Linked DNA regions of Homo sapiens. The protein of the gene in region 1 interacts with the protein of each later gene in a pairwise test. Each region holds a gene or a part of one and is shown in the gene's direction. Other genes may lie near its edges. The genes, in order: DCP1A, RITA1, UPF1, XRN1, RAD52, NBDY and PAXIP1.

The links.
Region 2: the proteins of DCP1A (region 1) and RITA1 interact in binary tests that used the Homo sapiens proteins (3 or more experiments, as listed by UniProt).
Region 3: the proteins of DCP1A (region 1) and UPF1 interact in binary tests that used the Homo sapiens proteins (3 or more experiments, as listed by UniProt).
Region 4: the proteins of DCP1A (region 1) and XRN1 interact in a two-hybrid assay, tested with the Homo sapiens proteins (one large-scale study listed by BioGRID).
Region 5: the proteins of DCP1A (region 1) and RAD52 interact in binary tests that used the Homo sapiens proteins (3 or more experiments, as listed by UniProt).
Region 6: the proteins of DCP1A (region 1) and NBDY interact in binary tests that used the Homo sapiens proteins (3 or more experiments, as listed by UniProt).
Region 7: the proteins of DCP1A (region 1) and PAXIP1 interact in a two-hybrid assay, tested with the Homo sapiens proteins (one large-scale study listed by BioGRID).

What each region holds. Positions count from the first base shown.
Region 1 is NC_000003.12:53,337,544-53,341,043, reverse strand, and holds part of DCP1A (mRNA-decapping enzyme 1A), read left to right. Parts: intron 1-2,898; coding exon of another isoform or gene 2,899-2,953; intron 2,954-3,500. UniProt on the Homo sapiens protein: Necessary for the degradation of mRNAs, both in normal mRNA turnover and in nonsense-mediated mRNA decay. Removes the 7-methyl guanine cap structure from mRNA molecules, yielding a 5'-phosphorylated mRNA fragment and 7m-GDP.
Region 2 is NC_000012.12:113,188,721-113,192,868, forward strand, and holds the end of RITA1 (RBPJ-interacting and tubulin-associated protein 1), read left to right. Parts: intron 1-2,589; coding exon 2,590-3,097; 3' UTR 3,098-3,648; downstream 3,649-4,148. UniProt on the Homo sapiens protein: Tubulin-binding protein that acts as a negative regulator of Notch signaling pathway.
Region 3 is NC_000019.10:18,855,959-18,859,458, forward strand, and holds part of UPF1 (regulator of nonsense transcripts 1), read left to right. Parts: coding exon 1-131; intron 132-227; coding exon 228-342; intron 343-918; coding exon 919-1,062; intron 1,063-1,361; coding exon 1,362-1,575; intron 1,576-3,500. UniProt on the Homo sapiens protein: RNA-dependent helicase required for nonsense-mediated decay (NMD) of aberrant mRNAs containing premature stop codons and modulates the expression level of normal mRNAs.
Region 4 is NC_000003.12:142,306,110-142,309,073, reverse strand, and holds the end of XRN1 (5'-3' exoribonuclease 1), read left to right. Parts: 3' UTR 1-2,464; downstream 2,465-2,964. UniProt on the Homo sapiens protein: Major 5'-3' exoribonuclease involved in mRNA decay. Required for the 5'-3'-processing of the G4 tetraplex-containing DNA and RNA substrates. The kinetic of hydrolysis is faster for G4 RNA tetraplex than for G4 DNA tetraplex and monomeric RNA tetraplex.
Region 5 is NC_000012.12:936,195-939,694, reverse strand, and holds part of RAD52 (DNA repair protein RAD52 homolog), read left to right. Parts: intron 1-2,243; exon of another isoform or gene 2,244-2,609; intron 2,610-2,812; exon of another isoform or gene 2,813-2,888; intron 2,889-3,500. UniProt on the Homo sapiens protein: Involved in double-stranded break repair. Plays a central role in genetic recombination and DNA repair by promoting the annealing of complementary single-stranded DNA and by stimulation of the RAD51 recombinase.
Region 6 is NC_000023.11:56,815,561-56,819,679, forward strand, and holds the end of NBDY (negative regulator of P-body association), read left to right. Parts: intron 1-1,759; 3' UTR 1,760-3,619; downstream 3,620-4,119. UniProt on the Homo sapiens protein: Promotes dispersal of P-body components and is likely to play a role in the mRNA decapping process.
Region 7 is NC_000007.14:154,947,625-154,951,124, reverse strand, and holds part of PAXIP1 (PAX-interacting protein 1), read left to right. Parts: intron 1-1,634; exon of another isoform or gene 1,635-1,827; intron 1,828-3,034; exon of another isoform or gene 3,035-3,121; coding exon 3,122-3,222; exon of another isoform or gene 3,223-3,227; intron 3,228-3,351; exon of another isoform or gene 3,352-3,432; intron 3,433-3,500.

The sequences.
Region 1 (3,500 bases):
TGTCTACTGGTTACCAGCACTGAGCCAAGAGCTGTGGTGCTTTAATGTTAACGATACAGTTACCTATGTGGTGTAAGCAGGCAGTTAAGTCAACTGAGACTCAGAGATGCATAACTATTACCCTGTTGGAGAGTTAGGATTATGACTATTCTTCTGCTTTTTAGTCCAGGGTTCTTTCAGGCATTTTTACAATCTCTAATAACGATTGGATGTAGTCAGCAAAGCTAGAGTGGCCCTTCCAAGAAACTACAGTACTAAAAAATATACTTGATTCCAGTGTATTAGTATGGATATTGAAGGTATGGGTGTTTGAGGACAGTTTGTTGGACATTGACTATAGGGATATGAAAACTGGTTATGGTAACAATGATTGTGCTCTAATTGGCATCTAAGGATATAGTTGGAGAAATGTTGCTTCTAACTTAAAAAGTAAAAGTTAATGTGTTTGAATTTCACTTGGCGGGGGGGTAATTGGTCTTGGGGGATGTCTTCAGTATAAAATAGAAAAAGTTACTAAAAATTATACACCTCTTAATTCCCTGAATGAGAAGTAACAAGGCCTATTTTAAAGCTAGAAACCCCCAAGTTCTTTTCCGTAGCACACTTTGAAGTATAAGTGAAATAGGTTCTATCTTTTGACTTCTCAGTAAACTATTTGTCCAGGTAATTACCTCTCAGATTTTAAATTCTGTGGACATATTAGACATGCTTTGTAATAGCTGTAAGTTCAGATGGATTTATTTAAACTAATGTTAACAATGTAATTATTTCAGATTGCTCTTTTCTTTGTACTGAATATTCCATTAAAGGGAAAATTCGGCTGGGCAAAGTGGCTCAACACCTGCAATCCCACGATTTTGGGAGACCGAGGCAAGCAGATTGCTTGAGCCCAGGAGTTTGAGACCAGCCTGGGCAACATGTCAAAACCCCCACTCCACAAAAAAATAGAAAAATTAGCCAGGTGTGGTGTCACACACTTGTAGTCCCAGCTACCCAGGAGGCTGAGGTGGGAAAGTCGCTTGAACCCAGGAGGCTGTCCAGGCTGCAGTGAGCCATGATTGCGCCACTGCACTCCAGCCTGGGCAACAAGCGAGACCCTGACTCAAAAAATGAAAAGAGGGTGGGAGAAATTCTGCAAATGAATATGGATCCAATTTTTTTTTAAGTGAAATAGGCTTAATTCTGTTCTTTACTGCCTGGAAACTTAATCTAGCCATCACTCCTAAGTGGTTTGATTATTAAAGTAGTCAGTAGGGAAAGTTATCCGGACCCAGTTACCATTTAGCATAAACCTGAGATGAATTGTATTATATTTTTTTCACAAGGCAAAAGTCCTGTGAAATTGAAAGTGTGACATAACACAAATGTAATTGAACCATGAGTAACCAGAAGCTAACTAATTAGAGCTTCAGTTGTCTGGAAATATTTTTATAGTTCGTGTGTGGAAGAAATGAAGGCAAATTATAAGAAAACAAGCTAATACTAGGTTTTATTTTCTGAAAATCAAGCAGATATCCAGAGAATAACCTGGGGTCGGCATTAAAATGTCAATATTTTATAACTTTAACTCCACTGTAGTATCATAGGTTAAATTGTTATAGTGAGACCTAAAATCATCAGGAGTATTTATTATGTTAACTAGAACATTCTTGGGGAGAAAGTGCATTAATGCATTTTACTTTAGAAAATTTTCAACTGATTGAAACAAAAGTTTTCTTAGTTGAACAGAAAACTCACTTAACCAGGTCATTTCATTAGGGAAAGTATTTAAAGGAATAGCTGTATTGGGGAGAAGTGATAAGACAACAGAAAATGATTTTGTGAGTGTTAAGCCCTCTCGAGTGTGTGTTTTGTCTACATAGTCTTAAAAGTGGAAAATAGTCTTGTCAGGTCAGCGAGCTATTAAGTTGTTTAGGGATTTGTTCTTTAAATAAAAAGTTAGTATCTGATTATGCATACAGGTAATTATACCTGATTCTATAGCTGCACTTCTGCCATTCTCTTGTGGGAAATACCATCAAGACACCTGACCCATTTAACTCAAGTGACACCTTCATATCCAACTTCTTTCATTCAAATTAATTTTTGGAGTTAATGTACTAGAACAGTGAACCATAACTTTTTTTCAGTTCTAAGTTATTTGTTTTATTTATTTTTAAGAGTTTTTCTTTTTTTTTTTTTTTGAGACGGAGCCTTGCTCTGTCACCCAGGCTGGAGTGCAGTGGCATGATCTTGGCTCACTGCAAGCTCTGCCTCCCAGGTTCACGCCATTCTCCTGCCTCAGCCTCCCGAGTAGCTGGGACTACAGGCGCCCACCACCACGCCCGGCTAATTTTTTCTATTTTTAGTAGAGACGGGGTTTCACCGTGTTAGCTAGGATGGTCTCGATCTCCTGACCTCGTGATCCACCTGCCTTGGCCTTCCAAAGTGCTGGGATTACAGGAGTGAGCCACCGCGCCCAGCCAAGAGTTTTTCTTTATAAAACATGCCCATCTACACCCACCCCACCCCTCAAGAAAAAGATAAAATCTTAAAGAGAAAATTCTTACACTGACTAAGGGCTTAGGCTTGGTGATTCTCTTAAATCTTTGTGGGGTAGTGGTGGTGGTGGTGGTGGTTGTTTTCAAAAGACAAGGTCTCACTGTGTTGCCCAGGCTGGTCTTGAACTCCTGGGCTCAAGCAATTCTCCCGCCTCAGCCTCCCGAAGTGCTAGCATGGGCCACCATGTCCAGCCTCTTGAATCTTTTGGGAACAGTGTATTTTTATTCTGTGCAAGGGCCTTTTGGCAGTCACAAGACCCCAGTGGGATTGCAATGAATTATGGGGAGGTTATAAATTCTGGAGTTATTGAGTAGCAGTGGTATTTCTAGCACCTTATTTCTGATCCTCAACTTACAGGTTGAGAAAACAAGAGGCTCAGAGCTGTTTAGGAATCTGCTCGAGATTCGCAAAGGTAATAAGTGACAGATGGAGAATTTGGGAGTAGGTCTTTCGGGCTTCAAGGCCAATGTTCTTTCCACTCTACTGTAACAATAAAATTACTTCATCAATCCATATTCTAGAGTAGTGCTATCCACTAAAACTTTGCAATTAGGGAAAATGATAGTTCCGTGTCAGCACTGTCCCATATAGTAGCCTGCAATGTGGCTAGGGCAAATGAAGAACACTTCTTTTTAGTTTATTTAATTTAATATATTAGAATTTACATGGCTGTATGTGCTGGCAGCTGCCATACTGGACAGTGGAAGTCTCAGCATGAGCTCATGTGCTAACATGCTCTTTGTTGTGCCATACCTGAATCAAACAACTACTTGGGAAGCTTTGGCTTAGATTTTTATGCGTCCTATTTAGTCATTCCTTTTTGAAACTTACAAATGATTTCTAGATACAAAAGCTGCAGAATATATCCCTGAGGGTGGCTTTGCCATGGTAACATTCTTTTGGCATGGAATTTAGTTTGCAGATAAGAATTCTATTCTGGGCTTTGCCTTACTGACTAT
Region 2 (4,148 bases), on another chromosome or scaffold:
CATAAGGACACCAGTTCTATTGGATTAGGATCCCCTACCCTTATAATGTTATTTAGCCTTAGTTACCTTTTTTTTTTTTTTTTTTTTTTTTTTTTTTTTTTTTTTTTTGAGATGGAGTCTGGCTCTGTCGCCCAGGCTGGAGTGCAGTGGCACCATCTCGGATCACTGCAGCCTCCACCTCCGGGTTCAAGGAATTCTCCTGCCTCAGCCTCCCGAGTAGCTGGCATTACAGGTGCACGCCACCATGCCTGGCTAATTTTTGTATTTTTAGTAGAGACGGGGTTTCACTGTGTTGGCCAGGCTGGTCTCAAACTCCTGAGCTCAAGTCGTTCTCCCGCCTCTGCTTTCCAAAGTGCTGGAATTACAGATGTGAGCCACCATGTCTGGCCAGCCTTAATTACCTTTAATTAATCTAAATAATTAAGGCCAAGTGTAGAGACATTTGGGGTTAGGGCTTCAACATATGAATTTGGGTGGGCACAATTCAGTCCATAAGAACTGGCCAGCTAAAGTTAGGGTTCATTCTGAACCACAGGGACATATTTCAGATGAGAGAAATGAAATGAGAATGGGAATGATACCTATTATAAAAACAAGAATCAGTTATTGCCAGTTCTGTAGACAAGGCAGGGTCAGGTGGAGATTAGCAACACTGATACCTACAACATGGCTGAAAACACTGAGGTAAAGATAGGCTGCATTAGGAAGTATGGTGTCCATGAAAAGGGAGGTGACAACTCCTTGCTCACCTGGAGGGTGGAATTTTCTTCTGGATGCCAACAGGTAGAGGGTGTCAAGTGAGGGGTTGCATAAGAGGTAGAGAAGTTATTGAGCAAAAACCTTGGCACCAGACATATACAGGCATTAGCCAATGTGGTTTGAGCAGCTAAACCAAGTGGCAAAAGCTTGCCCTTTCAAAGACTTGCAGTTTGGGGATAGAAGCACTTTCAGTCCTGGCCAAAAAAACTATGGGCGTGGAATCTTGCAGGTATGCCGTGAATATCTGTTGAATAAAAAAAAAAAAAAAAAAAAAGGCCAGACAGGCTGACTCAGGCCTGTAGTCCCAGCACTTTGGGAGGCTGAGGTGGGAGGATCGCTTGAGCTCCAGAGTTTGAGACCAGCCTGGGCAACATAGTGAGATCCCTGTCTCTACAAAAAATAAAAATATTAGCAGGGCATAGTGGTGCATACCTGTAGTCCCAGCTACTCTGGAGGCTGAAGTGGGAGGATTACTTGAGCTCAGGAGTTCGCAGCTGCAGCGAGCGTCACTGCACTCCAGCCTGGGTGACAGAGTGAGACCCTGTCTCTTAAAAAAAAAAAAAAAAAAGGCCGGGCGCAGTGACTCTTGCCTGTAATCCCAGCACTTTGGGAGGCCGAGGTGGGTAGATCATGAGGTCAGGAATTGAAGACCAGCCTGGCCAACATGGTGAAACCCCCCCCGTCTCTACTAAAAATACAAAAATTAGCTGGGCATGGTAGCACATGCCTGTAATCCCGCCTACTCAGGAGGCTGAGGCAGGAGAATCGCTTGAACCCAGGAGGCGGAGGTTGCAGTGAGCTGAGATTGCACCACTGCACTCCAGCCTGGGTGACAGAGCGAGACTCTGTCTCAGAAAAAAAAAGAAAAAGAAAGAAAGAAAAGAAAATGGGCACGGTGGCTTACTCCTGCAATCCTAACACTTTGAGAGGTTAAGGCAGGGGGCTGCTTGAGTTCAGGAACTCAAGACCAGCCTGAGCAACATAAATCTGATCTCTACTAAAAATCAAAAACAAAAAAATTAGCTGGGCTTGGTGGCACTGTGCCTGTAGTCCCAGCTATTAGGGAGGCTGAGGTGAGAGGATTGCTTGGGCCCAGGAATTTGAGGCTGCTGTGATCTGTGACTGTGCCACTACACTCCACTTGAACAACAGAGTGAGATCGTGTCTCACAAAGAAAAGAAAAAGTGGAGGCTATAAAGACTAAGGTTATACTAATTGTGACTCTCAATTGCAAGTGACAGAAAACTTATTCAAACTGGCTTCCCCAGGAGAAGGCATGTGGGGCTCCTGTAACAGGGGCTCAAACTGTGGCTGGAACTGTCTGTCTCCACCTTAGTGCTGCTTTTCCCTGCATGCCCTTCAATCTTCAGTAGGAAGGAGATAGCCACAAGCTGCTTTGGGCTGACATCCTATCAGCTTAGCAAGAAGTAAAGTCAGGTGGCAGAAAGACATCTCTTTCCTAGTGGTTTCTGCAAGGTCCTAAGGCAGATTCTGATTGGACAGGCTTGGGTCATCTGGCCATTCGTGAACCAATCCATGTGGCCAGGAGGATGGAATATGCAAATTGTCCAGGCCTGGGGCACATGTCTGGGAATGGGGTCAGGATGCAGGGGCAGTGGATGTTTCGCAGGGAAAATCAGCAGAGACCGGGGGCAGTGGTGCTTAAGAGGCTGTGGCCTCGCTGTAGGTTTCAGACTGGGAGACAAGGACTCCTGGGATCTGCAGGCAACCCTCCTCTGCTGCTGCCATCCCAGGGTGGGTGGGAGAGCTGTTAAAGTTTTGAGGGGTTGTTCATCCCCCAGCTCATGGCGTTTATCTTCCATTTGCCAGACCCATCAGCCACACCCCGTCTTACTGTGATGAGTCGCTGTTTGGCTCCCGATCTGAAGGCGCCAGCTTCGGGGCCCCGCGGATGGCGAAGGGGGATGCCGCAAAGCTCCGTGCTCTCTTGTGGACGCCACCACCTACCCCCAGGGGTAGCCACTCGCCCCGCCCCAGGGAGGCACCACTGCGAGCCATTCACCCAGCTGGTCCCTCCAAGACAGAGCCGGGGCCAGCGGCAGACTCCCAGAAGTTATCTATGGGTGGGTTACACTCTTCACGCCCCCTGAAGCGGGGACTTTCCCATTCCCTCACCCACCTGAATGTCCCCAGCACTGGTCATCCAGCCACCAGTGCCCCCCACACAAATGGGCCTCAGGATCTCAGGCCTTCCACGTCAGGGGTGACCTTCCGGAGCCCCCTGGTGACTTCCAGGGCTCGCTCAGTTAGCATTTCAGTGCCATCTACCCCACGACGAGGTGGGGCCACCCAGAAACCAAAGCCCCCTTGGAAATGATACTCTTTCATCAGGGTTGCCTATGGGGCCACGGCGACAGGTATGGCCCCTTGCCAGGGTAGGAGGACATTCATCACCCAGGGAACCCCAGGTATTAAAGAAGCCCCTGTGGGGGCAGACAGACATAGCAGGGGTGGGCAGTGCCTCCCTTTATCCTGACAATCTCTAGTCGATTCTTGCCTTTTTCTCCCGATTGCGGATTTGGGGGCCACCTCTAAGATGCCTCTCTCCAGCCCTGTCTCAACCATACTCCAAATTAGTGCCAACCCAGGGGCCTGGCACCTCCCACATCATCCATTGTCTTGCTGCCAAGTGCGAATAAACGGCGTGATTGCCAACCTGGAGGGTCCCCTCTTATCCCTTCAAGCCAAGCTTCCTGCTCAGGATTAGTTTCCAGCTAAGTCTGCAAGCCCTAGAGGAGTTTTTCCAGGCTGTCTGTGAAGCCTGGGGAACACAACGGCAACTGGGAGATTTGTGAGTGAACACTGTTTCATCTTAATATGCTTCTGAATTTATTTTCATGTACTAAATAGATCAGCTCATCAAAGCCATGAATGTCACTTTTTTTCCCCCTCAGGGTAAAGGCCATTGTTAGGCCTGAGTTGATTTAAATAACAAAGTTAAATACAACAGATAGTACAAGGATGTGGCAGGCAACATGACAGCGGTGAGTGGGTAACTGAAGTTTGGGAATCTGGGGCTTCGGGAAGCGCTGGACTCTTCCTCCCGTCGGCTTCTGGCTAATGCCACTAACTTGTGGTTGGCCGGCTCTTCCTTAGCTCAGAGTACAGACAATAGTATTTTTTTAGTTTTGTTTTTAAGTTTGTTTGTGTGTGTGTGTGTGTGTGTGTGTGTGTGTTAAGGTGGGAAATAAAACACAATGGCTAGGACTTTGCCAAGTGGAGGGTCCAAGAAAGCCAGACAGTGACATGTGTGTCTGCAGAGCACTTAGGATGCAGCCCAGGACTTAGGAAAAGCAACAAAGCCTTTGCGCAGATGGAATTGCACCCAGATTGGGCAGTGTGGGCTGGGCTCTGGGCCTCTCCTTGCC
Region 3 (3,500 bases), on another chromosome or scaffold:
GTGGACCAGCTAACGGAGAAGATCCACCAGACGGGGCTAAAGGTCGTGCGCCTCTGCGCCAAGAGCCGTGAGGCCATCGACTCCCCGGTGTCTTTTCTGGCCCTGCACAACCAGATCAGGAACATGGACAGGTGTGTGTCGAGTCCATCCCTCCCAGTTGGTCCCTGAGCTTCTGCGGGTGACATGTACAGAACTCAGGCACCCTGCTGACCTGCATGTGCTTCCAGCATGCCTGAGCTGCAGAAGCTGCAGCAGCTGAAAGACGAGACTGGGGAGCTGTCGTCTGCCGACGAGAAGCGGTACCGGGCCTTGAAGCGCACCGCAGAGAGAGAGCTGCTGATGGTGAGTGCCCCTCCTGCCTGCAAAAGGGCCTGTGGGCTGGCGGCCTGATGGTTTTTGTTTGGGCCAAAGCACCTATTTGAATTGTTGCTTTGCTTCTGGAAAGAGAACTTAGATGCTCTCTACTTGGCCTCTCTGCGCTCAGTTGTACAGTAAATTAGGGACATCTCGCTGCCTGGAACACGGTCTTCTAGGGAGTCTCCACTCCCTGCCAGCCTCCACTGGGATCCGGCAGTGGATCTAGAACACTCCTGCTCTTTCATAACCAACCAGCCTGAACTGGAATCAGCCTGAGTGCAGGTTCCAGCAGCTCAGCACTGCCCCTTGGAGGCTGTCGTGAGGCGCAGAGCTCTTGGTGTGGAGAGGTTGCCTTCTGTGAAACATGACCGTTTAAGGATCTTAAAAGTTTGTAATCACCACAGCCTGGACCATGTATCTTGTCTGGGAGGGACAGCTTGTTTTTTATAGTGTCAGGGAGGGTGAGAAACAGGAGAGCTTCTGTGTTCTGTCCCACCTGCCCTCCGGGGTCTGGTGGCGTTTACAGTGCAGGTGCCCTGATGCCTCTGCACCCTTCCCCAGAACGCAGATGTCATCTGCTGCACATGTGTGGGCGCCGGTGACCCGAGGCTGGCCAAGATGCAGTTCCGCTCCATTTTAATCGACGAAAGCACCCAGGCCACCGAGCCGGAGTGCATGGTTCCCGTGGTCCTCGGGGCCAAGCAGGTGGGCTGCCTCCCCTGCCCTCCTGTGTGAAAACTCGTGTGTGTGATTCTTGGTGTTTGTCTTTTAAAACACCTTGTATTGACGTAGGATGCCCAGCAGAGTGTGCGCACACTGGGGGCTCCCTGAGGGGTTTATAGAGGGTGGGTTCTGCCAGCTGCACGTCCAGTGTGCGTGGTGAGCAATGCCCCTGTGGCCAGGTGGTGTCCTGTGCATCCTGGGGCCCCTACTTCCTTGCTAGTGTGTGTTGAGGCTGATTCACACCTGAGCTTCTTGACTTGTGGGGGCCCCTGTTCCTACAGCTGATCCTTGTAGGCGACCACTGCCAGCTGGGCCCAGTGGTGATGTGCAAGAAGGCGGCCAAGGCCGGGCTGTCACAGTCGCTCTTCGAGCGCCTGGTGGTGCTGGGCATCCGGCCCATCCGCCTGCAGGTCCAGTACCGGATGCACCCTGCACTCAGCGCCTTCCCATCCAACATCTTCTACGAGGGCTCCCTCCAGAATGGTGTCACTGCAGGTAACGGGGCTCTGCCCAGGGCAGGGGCTTCTACAGAGAAGCGGCATCAAGGGAATGTGGACTGGGGAGAAGGAACTGGCCCATCAGCTTCCCCTGAGCGGCTTCACATAGCCACTGCTTGAGGTCAGGGCACTTTGTGCCCAAGGTCTTGATGGTATGGTCTTGGATCAAGTGGTGTCTCTGGGGCATGTGGGGAGCCTGTGTCCTCTGTAAAACTCAGTCATTGCCTGAGAATTCATCCAAGCCTCATGTGGCAGCATGCACAGCAGCCAGGACAGGCTGTTAGGGGAGCTGAGCCCGGGCCTTAACGTGGGCTGTGCATTCAGTGCTTCATGAAGAACAGCTGTTCTCAGGGCCTGGGCCCCTGGGGCCCGCAAGACCGTGTCCGGCTTCCCTGGATAACACAGAGGCCTCACCTGCCCTTTTTCACTCTGCTGACGCTCACACTGCTGGTGACCCCCTGGTGCTTCTGCAAGAGTCAGCCCAGAGCAGCCAGACTGTGCCCGGATCACAGTAAGAAACGCCCTGGATGAGGAAGTGAACAGTACATCTTACTAAGCCTCGAGTGTTTCACTGTGACCAGATAAAATTTCTCGTGACACCTTTGGGTATGCCGGCGCTTGAAGGAAGTCCTTGTGGACACACCCTGGGTATTCACCCCAAGGTGTTGGGCAGACTTTTTCCAAAAATGATCGAACCTGTCGCTTCATGGAGAACTAGTGGCAACATCTGTTACAGTAGTAAAATTCAAGTGAAAACCAGAATTTTGGAAAACTTAACGTCGCTTGCCATGAGCTTGGTGTCTTCCCAACACCTAGAGACTTTTCTGGTGAGGTCTGTGGGGGTGACAGATGGAATGTTTCCACCATTGCCAGTGAAATGTGTCAGCCTTTGGAAGACCTACTTGACTCGGTGGGAGATCCTTCCTGAATGACCAGCAGAGTGTCACGAAGTCACATGGGGATGGAGTGGCAAAGAGTTGTCACAGGCCTGCAGAAACCCACCTTTGTCCAGCTTGATGTGGCCTCAGGGCTGGAGACTCCCAGCCATGCAGAAAGGCTGTAAAAACAAACCCATCTCCCTTTCCAGCCTCAGGCATCCATGAGGCCTGGCTTCCCCACAGCGTCCCCAGAGCCCAGGAGGGTGGACTGAGCAGAGGTGGACCCCAGGGCCCAGCTGCCTCCGATTCAGCCAGATAGTAAGGAGATTTGCAGAAATGGGAGACAGGACCACTCTTCTTACTTAGCTTATTTTTGGAGAAATAACTAACACGTAATGGGTTATTTTTAAATGAATTAATATATTTTTTAAATTTCCAAGTTTAGAGAATACAGTTATCCAATAAACAAAAGCTGTTTGGACTCCCTAACTTTTGAGAGTGTAAAGGGTCCTGAAAGCTGCCGACACAGCGCCTCATGAACTCCAAACCTGTGAGGTTGGTATTGTCAGGCCTAGTTACAGGAGAAAGTGAGGCTCAGAGCCCACCCCCCGGGTTGGGCCACACCACTCTTTGCCTAGCGGTAGGTCTTGGGAGTTGATGCCACTATTGACATCGCAGGGACACCGCTGTTCCCAGCGCATGGCAAGGCTGAAAACACAAGGCCACAGAGACCTAGCTTGTGCTCTGGGGTGTCTGAGCACTGGCTGGGAAAGGCGTGGCTCGGCGCAGGCTCAGACCCCTCATGGTCCCCAGGGCATCGGCCCAGAGGGCAGACGCTGGTGCACACTGCTCTCTAATTGATGCACAGCACGTAGTTCACACCCAGGAAGTACATTTTAGGAAATTCTCTATTGAAGTGTAAACATGTGGCCACATTACAAGTGTCTGGCTCAATGAGTGGTTACTAAGTGAGCATATTTGGATAGCCAGCACCTGAACCCAGAACCACCTGACCAGCTGTGAGAAGCCGCCTCATCCCTGCAGG
Region 4 (2,964 bases), about 89 Mb from region 1:
GGTCAATGGGAGATGTGCCCTCCCTATGGAGGATGTAAGAAGCAGAGGCCATTTCTGCCCCATGTTGAGGAAACAATCTGTTGATAGACCTGGAATTTAGAGTATATCTGAAAAGCAGTTGGACTTCAAGAAATTTAAAATTCTCTCTTTGAGATGGGGTGGACTAAGACCACCCCCAAAGTTTAAAAATATGCTCATTCAACTTGAATCTTCTGAGGACTTTTTGTGAAAATGGTGGACTGTTTAGGGCATAGGACAGATTCCCCAAATTGCTTTATGCTTCCACATAACTAGAGCACTTCAATCTATTTAAGCCTTTGTCTCCTAACTGAAACATTATTTCTAAATATTTCTATTCAATAAGTTTTTTCTTTTTTGAGCAACTTAAGTGAATTTTGAAGATTGCTCCTTCCAGTCTCGTTCCTTTTCACATTTTCCTGCATTACCTAATAATTACCTCAGCGTTAGAATTTGAATGTATTAATTGATTTAAACATCATGTAGACTAAAGTCTTAAACATCTAAGACTCAGTTGTAGTTGCAGAAAAAAATTAAAGTCACCTCTACTGAACCTTGGTTTCAATTTAAGATTTTTCTTGCTTTTCAAAGGGGTAACTAATAAAGATTGAAGGGTTTTTTTCCCGATTGGTGGAGGAATGAAGAACTATTGATGCAAGTTTTTTTATTGTTTCTTTCTATGATCAGGTACCTGCTTTCATTTTAGACTGCTACTTCCAAACTAAGCTAGATTCTTGGTTTTAATGAGAGGAGGCAGAGAGAGGGAGGCAGATGGAAGAAGAAAAACAGTTAAATAAGACATACCCAGTCACTGCATTTTTGGACTATACCGTATCTTTCTAGCACAAGGAAATAGATAAACTGTAAGGTCTTTTTTACTCACTTTTTATTTATGTGTTCTATTTGTGTTAGTCATAACTGTTTATAGTGGTTGTCTAATTTTTACTTTTATTATATGAGATAGAGCTGTGCAGATCTTCACTCAAGTTAGTTCTGTCACGCTTCTTCCCATTATTTAGAGCACAGTTTTTTAAAGCAACTGTACAATTTCTCAGCCTTATGAGCTTGCTGTATTTCTTGGTATCATGTTGCTTCCAAATTTTGTTTTTACTGTAGAAGACAATTAATTTATTGTAGAGAAGTGGCTGTGAAAGTCGTTCTCTGTCTTTAAAAATCAATTGCAGAAGTTCATTTGTCATTTTTCTAGAGATAAATTATAGTACTCAAACTGGCAGTGCTCAGTATATACATTTTGTAAGCTTTGTCAGTGAAACCATCAGTTTTGCAGGAGCTTCCTTTCCTAGTCAAGATAAAGCTTAAAATTCCAGAAATTAATGTCGTTCGGACTGACTTTATTCATATTTCCATCAAACTTCTCCAATACAGTAAGAGATAGTGTTGAACCAGCATCAAGTCTCCAGAAACATGGCAGAGCAGACAGGCCGTTAAGTTTCACAGACATCATAGATCCTTTTCTTAAAGAAGAAAAACATGTATAAAATAGTTTTAGTAGTCCAAAATGTCAACTATCTGTAGCTGCTTTTGTGTGTGTGTCAGTGAACAAATAATAATGCCTTGCTCAATCAATGCATTCAGCCATCTCAAGTGCAATTTGTGAAGGAGACTATGGTTTCCAAAAGATACATTTTTTTACAAAGTTAAACCTGTAAAAAGTCTTTTTTTTTTTCCCTCCAGCCGTACACCAACTGCACTTGGTTGTTTCAGCAGTTGGTATACTATTAAATTGTCCAGGCCAAATAGGTTTCTGTAGCTGTTTTAGTAATTTGAAGCCAAATTCTCATGCTGTTTCTCATTAAAAAGAATGAGAATTTGGTCCATAGTTAGCTTTAAGTTCTCTCTTCCTTTCTTTCCCTTACAGTTAAGGGTTTGGTGGGGGATGGGGAGGTTGTTTTCGTTTTTTGGATTTTTTTGTCTTTTGGCTTTAAGTATCATATTTTCTTTTGCCTGTATCCAACTGCTTCTTTGAGTATTTTCATCTAGTTTAATGTGAGTAATAGATGCTGTGCTGTCATTGAAGTGTTCAACATTTTGTTCATTTAAACAAAAGTGTAATTCATACATATATAGATACATATCTTAATTGATTTCTCAACTATTTTATAAGTAACTGGAATTTTTCATTAGATCTTATACAGAGAAGTATTTTATTAAAAATTCAAAAGGGAAGACTTTTATGTGCTCATTTTGTAATTTTTGATTTTAAATATCTTTACATTGTCTGCCAATTAAAGTGTTTTAAACTTGCATTGGAATGGACTCCGAATGTATTTTTGTGGTGTTACGTTATCCGTAGATTTCTAGCATGAAGTTAGCCTCACGATGCTGTGCAAAGGATTTTAAAATATGAGAGTCACTGAAAGAGTTTAAACATCTGTTCATGTTAAATGCTCTATGGATTTTAATTAAAGACTTGAGAATGATTTTATAAGCTGTTTGTTCTTTTATTACTATGCTGATATCAAAAGTAGAAACATTAGTCTTTTTGTTTGTTTGTTTTTGAGACAGAATCTTGCTCTGTCGCCCAGGCTGGAGATCTCGGCTCCCTGCAGCCTTCACCTCCCAGGTTCAAGCGATTCTCTTGCCTCAGCCTCCTGAGTACCTGGGACTACAGGCACATGCCACCATGCCTGGCCAATTTTTTAATTTTTTTTATTTCCATAGGTTATTGGGGAACAGGTGGTGTTTGGTTACATGAATAAGTTATTTAGTGGTGATTTGTGAGATTTTGGTTCACCCATCACCTGAGCAGTATACACTGCACACAATTTGTAGTCTTTTATCCCTTGGCCCCTTCCCACACTTTCCCTCTGACCCCCAAAATCCATTGTGTCATTCTTATGCGTTTGCATCCTCATAGCTTAGCTCCCACTTATGAGTGAGAACATACAATGTTTGGTTTTTCATTCCTGGGTTACTTCACTTAGA
Region 5 (3,500 bases), on another chromosome or scaffold:
AAGAAATTGACGTTTTTCTACTTATGGGTAATTAGAAGCTTGTAGTATTTTCAGTCTTCTAAGTATGTTGAAGATATGAGACGTTGGTGATTTTCTTTGTTTCTCCGGTTGGTTGGTCTGTGTAGTTTTTGGACATGTGTTTGGATATTTGGATTTATATAGCTGCCATAATCTTGGCTATGCAGGTAGTCTTTCCTGACACTTCATCCTGAAAGATTTGAAGCCTTTGGACAAATTTTACAGTGGGCTGGGTGCAGTGGCTCACGTCTGTAATCCCAGTGCTTTGGGAGGCTGGGCAGGAAGATTGCTTGAGCCCAGGAGTTTGAGACCAGCCTGGACAACATAGTGAGACCCGTGTCTCTACAAAAAATAAAAAATATGCCGTGTGTGGCGTTATACAACTGTAGTCCCAGCTACTTAGGAGGCTGAGGTGGGAAGATCACGAGCCAAGGAGTTTGAGGGTACGGTGAGCCATGATCGCCTCACTGCACTGGGTGGCACAGCGAGACTGTCTCAAAAAAAAAATTTACAATTAATGTCTGCATATCCTTCACCTAGGTTCATAAATTTGTACTTTTGCTTTATCTACTTGCCTTTTTCTCTCTCTCTACACACACACACACACACACACACACACACACAATTAGTTGAATGAATTGAGAGTAAGTTGCAGAAAACATGACACTTTACTCCAATATTGCATCATACAAAATCATACATCTAGTGATAGGCCATTGTCCTACAGAATCACGATATAATTATCACACTAACCAGCTGTGGTGGTGCACACCTGTAGTCTAAGCTACTCGGGAGGCTGAGGCAGAAGGATCACCTGAGCCCAGGAGGTTGTGGCTGCAGTCTCATATTCATCCCATCATCAGATTTCTCCCATTGTCCTAATAATATTCTTTATAGCTTTTCTTTATCCCTGATCCGAAATTTCATTGAAGATCACACAGTGCATTTAGTTGTCATGCCTCTTAAGTCTTTATTTATTTATTATTTATTTTTTGAGATGGAGTCTTGCTCTGTTACCCAAACTGGAGTGCAGTGGCATGATCTTGGCTCATGCAACCTCCACCCGCTGGGTTCAAGTGATTATCCTGCTTCAGCCTCCCGTGTTGCTGGGACTACAGGTGTGTGCCACCATGCCCAGCTACTTTTTATATTTTTAGTAGAGACGGGAATTGTACCATGTTGGCCAGGCTGGTCTTGAACTCCTGAGCTCAGATGATCCACCCGCCTTGGCCTCCCAAAGTGCTGGGATTACAGGCGTGGGCCACCACACCCAGCCTTAAGCCTCTTTTAACATAAAAGAGTTCACCAGCCATTCTATTTTGTTTTGCTTTTTGAGACACTGATGCTTTGGAGAGTCCAGGCCAGTTGCTTTGTAGATTTCAACTTGTTTGATTGTTTCCTGATGATTAGGTTGGTAGAAATACTACCTCAATGATGGGACCTTCTTAGTGCGTCCATCAGGAAGCACATGATGTGACTGTAATTGGTGACATTAAGTTTGATTCCTTAATAATTAAGGTGGTAACTCCCAGGTTTCTACATTGTAAAGGCATCTTTTGCCGCCCTCCTTTTTATTCCCAAGTAGTTTATTTGGAGATTAGTCCTTTACACAGTAGAGGAGCGGGGAAGGGAGACAGGAAAGGAAAGTTTGACAACAAAGGGTGAGTTTTCAAGCCTGTTGCCACGGGGGAACCTAATTCCACTGGAGAAGCTCATGGCTTGGTGATGTTCCACAGAGGGGTCAGAAATTTAGCGTATTTCAACACCAGCTCCTGTCAGGCACCATTTGAGGGCTGCTGCCAGGGTGGTTCAATTTTCTGGTGCTTACAGCTTGCCATAAACAGGTGCAAAGTAGTCTGGATACCAAAGAAAGCTCTCAGGTAACAAGATGCAGATGTTGGCATTTGGAAGTCAGAATAGGGTGCACTATTGTGGTAAGAGCTGAAGGGATGGCTGGGCGCGGTGGCTCACACCTGTAGTCCCAGCACTTTGGGAGGATGAGGCAGGCGGATCACCTGAGGTCAGAAGTTCGAGAGCAGCCTGGCCAACATGACGAAACCCCGTCTCTACTAAAAATACAAAAATTAGCCAGGCGTGGTGGTGGATGCCTGTAATCCCAGCTATTCAGTAGGCTGAGGCAGGAGAATTGCTTGAATCTGGGAGGTGTAGGTTGCAGTGAGCTGAGATCACACCACTCTGCACTCCAGCCTGGGTGACAGAGCGAGACTCTGTCTCAGAAAAAAAAAAAAGCTGAAGGGATGCTGAGTAGAGCATCCGTAGTGTCTGCTATACCTGGGTACCCTAGAACCTGGAGAACCTACAGCTTGAGGCAAGAGCGTATGTGCTATTATTTTTTCAAGAAGTGTGCTCTCAGGAAGCAGAGGTAGGGGAAAGGTGAGTGAAGGGAGAAGGAAGATTAAGTCAGTTCAAGGGTGCATTTTGAAGTTGGTTGCCCTTGGTGCAAGTACAGTTGGTTGCTTGTTCTCCTAAAGCTGTCTCCCAGGAGGATGTATACATAACTGCATTCCAGGGCAATCCATCTAAAGGAAGGGTGGACGGACCCCTCAGCTTCTGTATCTCACTGGAAAAAGGTTTGCTTCATGGCACATTAATTCCCATAGACTTCTAGGTTGTGCATGTGTGGGTACCAGGTGGGTCCCACAGACCCTTACACCTCCAAGGCAAGCAGCAAGCCACGGGTGGGAAGTGATAGGTACCCAGTATGAGCAGGAGGTAAGGGACCGTGGGGTTGTGCCTGTGGGCAGTTGGTTATAACCCAGACGTGTTTGATCAGCCCAGTGACAGCTGGAGTGGACAAAGTGACCAAGGGCCTCAAGGACACACAAGGCCAAGAAGATTTGAAGTGCTGTGTAAGATATGCCTAATGCATTTGGATTCTACCTTTGTTTAACGAATATGCACACATAAAAAACACTTGAACTCCTTGAGCCCAGGAGTTCAAGACCAACCTGGGCAACATAGTGAGACACTCATCTCTAAAAAAATTTTAAAAAAAATTAACCTGGCATGATAGCACTCACCTGTAGTCCTGTCTACTCTGGAGGCCGCAGTGGGAGGATCACCTGAGCCCTGGAGGTCAAGGTTACAGTATGCTATGATTGCACCACTGCATTCCAGCCTGGGTAACAGAGCAAGACGCTGTCTCTTAAATTTTTTTTTTTTTTTTTTTTACTTTTATAATGGAAAAACCATTGTAGACAGTTTTAGGAAGGAAAGCAGAATAGTAAGACATCTTTTTCAAAGTAAAAGAGCAAAAAAGGCAAAAAATATTTCACATTTACTTTATGGACAAAGATAAGATTGTCCTTCAATAAAAGACTGAATTTTTTTTGTTTGTTTTGTTTTGTTTTTTGAGAAAGAGTCTTGCTCCATTGCCCAGGCTGGAATGCAGTGGTGTGGTCTCGGCTCACTGCAACCTCCGCCTCCCGGGTACAAGCAATTCTCCAGCCTCAGCCCCCCGA
Region 6 (4,119 bases), on another chromosome or scaffold:
ACAAATTGTTTAACTTTTTTATTATACCATCTGAGAATATGTTTGCATATTTGTGAAAACAATTGGAAACTGTCTCAGTTATGTTCATTTTGAGAATTACTATGTTTTGGTGGACACATTTGCTGGAATTTTGTGCAGATATTTTTAAAATATTTAAGTTTATGTGGTTACTATGAGATATTATTAAATAAATAAAACATGTTCGGAGTAATGTGTATAATACAAACTCATTTTTTGTAACAACAAACAGAAAGAGTTACATGTTGGTAAGTATATGTGTCTTTGATTGGTTATGGAAAAAATTATTAGGCATTTATTCCATACTTTTAACATCTTTTAACCTCCACAGATTTAGAATTGTTTTTCTGGAAGAAATTGTTAATCTTCTCTTTTATACATTTCATGTTGTTTTCCTCATTTTAATGCCTTCGTATTATATTTCTAAATATAATTTTCTTTTATAAAACATGCAAATTTTATACGAAGAAAAACAGCATAAGTAAACTTAAAGACTATTTATATACAATGTGGTTCCATTTAAAAGATAGATAATGGATGCCATTAATTCATAGAATATATAATACATTTCTTTATGTTAATACAGAAACAAAGCCTGATAGAAATATAGTCAAAGAACAGGCAATTCATAGGAGACAAAAATATATGGCCAATAATAATAATAAATATAGTTGACTTTAATATTAGGTCATCATATTTGCCACAATCAAAAAAGTCTCCAGAATTCTCAGTTTTAGAAAGGATTTGGTTAAATATCTACTGTCTATAAAATTGTACGTTTCTAAAGTATTTTATCTCTATCGTAATTTTAATGTTTGTAAGTTTTGACTTGTGTTTTATTTGTAGAATATATGGAAATAATTCTACATATCAATAAATTGGCTTGCTTGTAGTAAAAATGTTGCAAGCATATTAAATATCTTTCAACAGAATTTGAACATCTTTCAACAGTTAAAATTATACTGTAACACGATGCAATATTTTGAAGCCATTGAAATATTGAGACTGATCTATTTTTATATTAAAAATTATTAAGACATTTATAAGTGAATAAAAACAAATTGCCGAAGTGTATGCTAGGATGATCTAATTTATATTATAAACTCCAAATCTAAATTATTATATTATTATAAATACTATATATGTGTACATTTAAATAGAAATAAAAAGGTCTAGACAGAATTGATAACTATGTTTTCTTCTGTAAATAGGAGAAAGACTGAGGAATGGTAAAAGTTTAGCAGTAAGAAGAATTATGTCTATGTTGTTTGAATTATATACAGTTAGATTGTATTCATGTATTTATTCATGTATTATTTGTGTAAATAAATAAATAAATATAAAATTTCCAAGGAATATAGGAGTTTGTCAAGGGGCTATGAGGGAACAATGAGGCTGATTGATTAGTTTTGGAAGCCTAATAAAACAAGAGTAATAGCGGTAGACATCCCTGTACTTTTTGGGGGAGAAATATGCCTAAGATAATAGAAACATCTGGTCCACCTAACAGATAAATTATTTTGCATTCAAATACATTAGATACCAAAAAGATGCAGGTTATTGACATTGTATGCCTTTGATTTAATATTTATTAAGCACTCATCTAATAATTTTGCATTCTCTTTAACTTGCTTAATAGGGAAATTGGGGTGTTTTCTGCTCAACAGACATATCTGACCTGTATGATAATGGAATTTCTCATTATAAGTCAATAAACTTTTGTTCTTTCTGTATCTTTCAGTCTTATGATGTAATCAGCGCGATTTCACTTCCTGAATTTCGATGAATTCTAAGACATGGGCAAGATCGGGTTGTAAGACCTCTGAGATTTAAGGCCATGCCCTGGATCATGGTGAACTTACCAAAGCAAACAATGCCTGTGAGATGGTCCTGCAGCAGCCAACCAGTGAACTCTTTTGGTGACATCCTGTTCTTGTTGTATAACTTTATATTCCTATAAATCCATTAAGGCCCCAATAAAGTTTGTCTCTAAGCGCTGTGTTAGATCTATATGACTACATCTAGTAAATTGTGAATTTTAAGTAAATATTTTATAAGAACTCCTATGTAAAGCATTACTAAAATTAGTGTTGAAATATGACCTTCTTCCTACATTTATTCATTTATTTATGTCTATTTATTCATTTATTTTAGTGAAAAATATAAGGAAAGTAGAGGAAGGTTAAATCCAAAAAAGAATTGTTTCCAGTACACTTTCTTTAATTTGCTGTCAGTTTTTGCATGGAATCTACATCTTTTTATGCTAATCCTCATCCTAGTATTTTACATCTTAACTATTTTTTTCTGACTGAAATGGTTGATGTGCTTGTTTTTTGTAATTTTCTACTTTCCTTCTAAAATGCTTAGTATTGAACAAATAGAATATCCTAATTAAAAACAGTAATAAATATTATGGTGAAAAAATACAAGTAAAATGGGAAAACATTAGATAGCAGCTTTCAATATTTCATATAGTTCATAAATGTTTCAGGAATTACAAGGTTATAGAAAAAAATTTATAGACTATAATAATTTCCAGGGATATAAAAAAATAAAGCTTCTACCTTTGAATTGTAATAATAAAAGATAAACAGACTTGAAAGCATATATTATATCTGAAAATGTCAGATAAACTTGGCTTATAAATTAAAATATAAAATAATAATACAATTTGTTCAAATAAGTAATTAAAGCTTACATTGTAAAATGAATATTTAGAGAGATTGTGAAACCTGAGTATTTTACCCAATCCTCTGAAATTAGTCCCTAGCATCAGAATTAAAGAATCTGAAAAATCACAAATGGAGGTATGGTGACATTTATGTATATTCTAGAGTTATGTTATGCACACTTAATAAATTATAGACAGTTATTTTAAAGATTGTATAATATTACTAATCACACATTAGAGTTTTAAAACTTCTGAGCCAGGCTGAACATCACAAACAGTAAACACAGACTTCTTTAAAAGGACATCTGGTGAAAGGCATTTTATGCATCAGAAGGCACAGTATTATAAAGATGACAACACTCTTCAAAATAATCAAACTATTCAATGCAACCCTTATCAAAATTAAGGTTGCCTACTTTGAAGAAATTTATAACCTGATTCTAAAGTTCATATGAAAATGTAATGGACCCAGAATAGCCAAAACAATCTTGAAGTATACAAAGTTTGAAGAGTCACATTTCCAAATTTTAAAACTTATTACAAAGCTACAATAAACAAGTCTATGTGGTACTGGCATAGGATATAAATATTGATCAATGAAATAGAATCCAAAGTCCAGACATAAGCCCTCACAAAAGTTAATTTGCAGCCAATTAACTTCTGAGAAGGAGGCAAGACAAAAGGGGAAATAACTATTTTCAATAAATGGTACTGGGACAACTTGGTATCTACATGCAAAAAAAAAACAAAAAAACAAAAAACTTCCACCCCTACCTCATGCAAAATACAAAAATTAACTCAAAATAGGCCAAAGACTCAAATATAAGGGTTACACTATAAAACTCTTGGGAGGAAATATAGAATAAATTTTTGTGACCTTGAATTAAGTATTAGATTTTTAATTCTTACACCAAAGCACAAGTTAATAAAGGAAAAAAAAGATAAACTGGACATAATTAAAATTGAAAAAAAATTTGCTTCAGTGAACACAGTCAAGAAATTTGAAAGACAGCCACAGTGCAAGATTATTTTTGCAAATAATATGTCTCATAAATGACTTGTATCTAAAATATATAAGACCAGGCATGGTGGCTCATCCTGTAATCCCAGCACTTTGGGAGGCTGAGGCAGGGGGATCACTTGAGGTCAGGAGTTTGACACCAGCCTGGCCAACATGATGAAACCCCATCTTTACTAAAAATACACACACAAAAAAAATTAGCAGGGTGTGGTGGTGTATGCCTGTAATCTTAGCTACTCAGGAGGCTGAGGTGGGAGGATAGCTTGAACCTGGGAGGCAGAGGTTGCAGTGAGCCAAAATTGCACCAATGCACACTCCAGCCTAAGCAACAGGGCAAGACGCCATCTCAAAAAATAAAACAAAATAATAAAATAAAATAAACAGTAATTACCGCTAAATAATAAAACAA
Region 7 (3,500 bases), on another chromosome or scaffold:
AAAGTCCATAGTTACATTAGGGCTCACTCTTGGCCTTGAACAGTCATTGGGTTTTAACAAATGTGTAAGGACATGATTTTGCTTTACAGCGTCATATGGAGTTGTTCCACTGCCCTGAAAATCCTCTGTGCTCCACCCACTCATTCCTTCCTGCCTGCTGACCCCTGGCAACCACTGATCTTTTATTCTTTCTATAGTCTTGCCCTTTCCAGAATGTTACATATTGGGAATCATACAGTATATAGGATTTTCAGATTTGCTTCCTTTGCTTAGCAATATACGTCCCAGCTTCCTCCATGTCTTTTCATGGCTTCATAAAGCATTTCTTTTTAGCACTAAATAATATTCCATTGTCAGAATGTATCTGTTCAGCCCCTCACCTACACAAGGACATCTTAGCTGATTCTAAATTTTCGCAGTTAGCAGTAAAGCTGCTAAAACATCCATGTACAGGTTTTAGTGTGGACGTAAGTTTTCAACTCCTTTTGGTAAATCAACAAGGTTGCAATTGCTTGATCATATGGTAAGAGTATGTTTAGCTTTGTAAGAAACCGCCAGGCTGTCTTCTGAAGTGCCTGTGCCATTTTGCATTCCCACCTGCAGTGAATGGGAGCTCCTGTTGCTCCACATCCTCCTCAGCATATGCTGGTGTTAGTGCTCTGGGTTTTGGCCATTCTAATAGGTGAGGTCCAGGTTACTTCTTATTTCTTTCATGGATTGTGTCTTTGGTGTTGTATCTAAAAAGTCATTGCCAAACTCAAGGTCCCTTAGATTCTCTCCTGTGTTATCTTCTAGGAGTTTCATAGTTTTGCATTTTACATTTAGGTCTGTGTTCCATTTTTGGGTCAGTTTTTTTTAAAAGAGGGTAAAGTCTGTGTCCAGCTTCCTTTTATTGCATATGGATGTGCAGTTGTTCCAGCATCATTTGTTGAAAACACTCTTTTCTCCACCTGTTTTGGTAGGTGCATGTTTTTGGGATTTTATATTTATGTGTAACTTACATAAAATTTGAGACATCAATATTATAATCAATTTCTAGGATACTCATTTCTTTTGTACTTCCATGAAAAGTTTAATGTTCAGGTTGAGTCTTTACATTGCTACTACTAAGGTAACATAACCCTGTTTGAAAAAACCAAAATCTCAATGTCTCATCTGTGACAGGATCGTCTTAGCTGTATTACTGTATTTTTCAATATTACTTTCTTTTCTTTTTAAGACAGAGTCTCACCCAGTCTGTTGCTCAGGCTGGAGTAGAGTGGTGCCATTGGCTTACTACAACCTCTGCCTCCTGGGTTCAAGCCATTCTCCTGCCTCAGCCTCCCTAGTAGCTGGGACTGCAGGCGCCCACCACGACGACGCCTGGCTAAATTTTTTTGTATTTTTTAGTAGAGACAGGGTTTCACCATGTTGGCCAGGCTGGTCTTGAACTCCTGACCTCAAGAGATCCGCCCACCTCGGCCTCCCAAAGTGCTGGGATTATAGGCGTGAGCCACCGCGCCCGGTGGTGTTTTCTCTATCATAAACATTAACTATTCTTGGTGATCTCACACAAGTTCTTCAGAAGGCATATCAGCTTTGAAAGTAACACTTCAAATATACCATCTCATGTGTAACAGTACTTTTTTTGTTCCTTTTTTAATTCATCATTTTTTGTTTTTCCAAATTTTAGACATTCTTTTTCTCCTTTCACCTAAAAAGCAGCCTTTCTATCTGCTGGTTGACTCAGGGATTGATTTTGTATTTCTGGCCGTTGGTGAACAGATCCCTGCATTTCTGTCATGATGTGGTTGCTCCTGCCCAGCAGTCAGCAAACTGGTCCATACGCTGAAAATGGTTTTTACATTTTTTAAATATTGCTTAAAAAAGAGAAGAGGAATATGCAGGAGAAATAATACATAGCCCACAAATCCTAAAATATGTATCATCTTGTCAACCCCAGTTTGCCAATCCCAAATCACTTTTCCTTGTTTTCTGCTTTTGATGTATATATTATTGGGTTTGAGCTGCCTTATTATGCTGTATGGTTGGTAGGAAATGGCGGCGGAGGAGAAATGGTTTTCTGAATATGAGGCATATTTATAGGAAGATTGAAACATTTTGTGATCTTTACCTTTTGACACATTTCTTAAAATGTTGCTATGAAAACTGAAAATCTGTCAATTATTAATAATTGTCAGAAGTCTTTAAAAATTGATAAAACTATCCTTTATAAATTGCTGTATACTTTTATATACTTGAATGTGTGTTTGGTAAATCTTTAAAGTTTGGTAATTCACATAATTGATTATGAGCCAAATGACTCCAATGTCCTACAAGTCCTTGAGGAGTTAGTGTATATATATAACATATATATATATAATATACACTTGGATGGGATTATTTGAAGCTTGTCTTTCTAGGACTGGAGATTTTAACCTGAGATCTGCGGGCTTGGAAAGTTGGTGAACTTCCTAAAATAGTCGGGGGGTAAAGAGGGGAGGAGCAGCTATGGGAAGAGGGTTCATATTTTTCAGTAATTTTTTTTTTCTTTTTTTACATTTTTGTTGTTAAAAAAAAAAAAATTACTATTATTTTGAGACCAGATCTCACTTTGTTGCCCAGGCTGGGGTGCTGTGGTGCAATGATGGCTCACCACAGCCTCGAACTTCCCAGACTCAAGCGATCCTCCCACTTCAGTCCCCCGAGTAGCTGGGACTACAGGCACATGCCACCATGCCAAGCTGATTTTAAAATTTTTCTGTAGAGATGAAGTCTCACTGTGTTGCCCAGGCTGTTCTCGAACTCCTGGCATCAAGCAGCTTTCCTTCCCCGGCTTCCCAAAGTGCTGGAATTACAGGCATGAACCACCACACCCAGCCCGTTTTTTTCAAGAGTTTATGACCCCAAATGGTTAATTACCACTGATCTAGGAGAAAAAATACCTGTCTGTCTTTTTGGTCTGGCTGTTTTTAGAGGGAAGTAAATGAAATATAATGGTGACATTTAAATATCCGAAGGCTGTACAGGTAAATGTAGCTGTAATATTATGTACCTGAATATGGGCGAGAATTTTGTGGGTCACACTTGCCACACTTCACGTGTCCACACTTTTCAGAGTATGTGCTGTTCTGTTTTCCAGATGAGCAGAACTACATTCTCCGAGATGCTGAGGCAGAAGTACTTTTCTCTTTCAGCTTGGAAGAATCCTTAAAACGGGCACACGTTTCTCCACTCTTTAAGGTACACTTTAAGGGAAAAGTAAATCAGTCCAAGTAAGCATAACACACGGACCTGCTCAAGGGAACTACCAGGTGATTTGGTGGGAAGTGCGCCTCCAGGGGAGCTGGGCTCACCCTGCATCCCATTTACCTCTTGGCTTCCTTCTTGGACATTGCCACTGGAGGTCTTCCTCCTGTGAACCACAGCACATCTCTAGAGAACTTTTCTTTACTATAATGTTTAAAAATAAGTACACAAATTTAATAAATACATCTATGAGAAATAAGTTATTCAAAGAA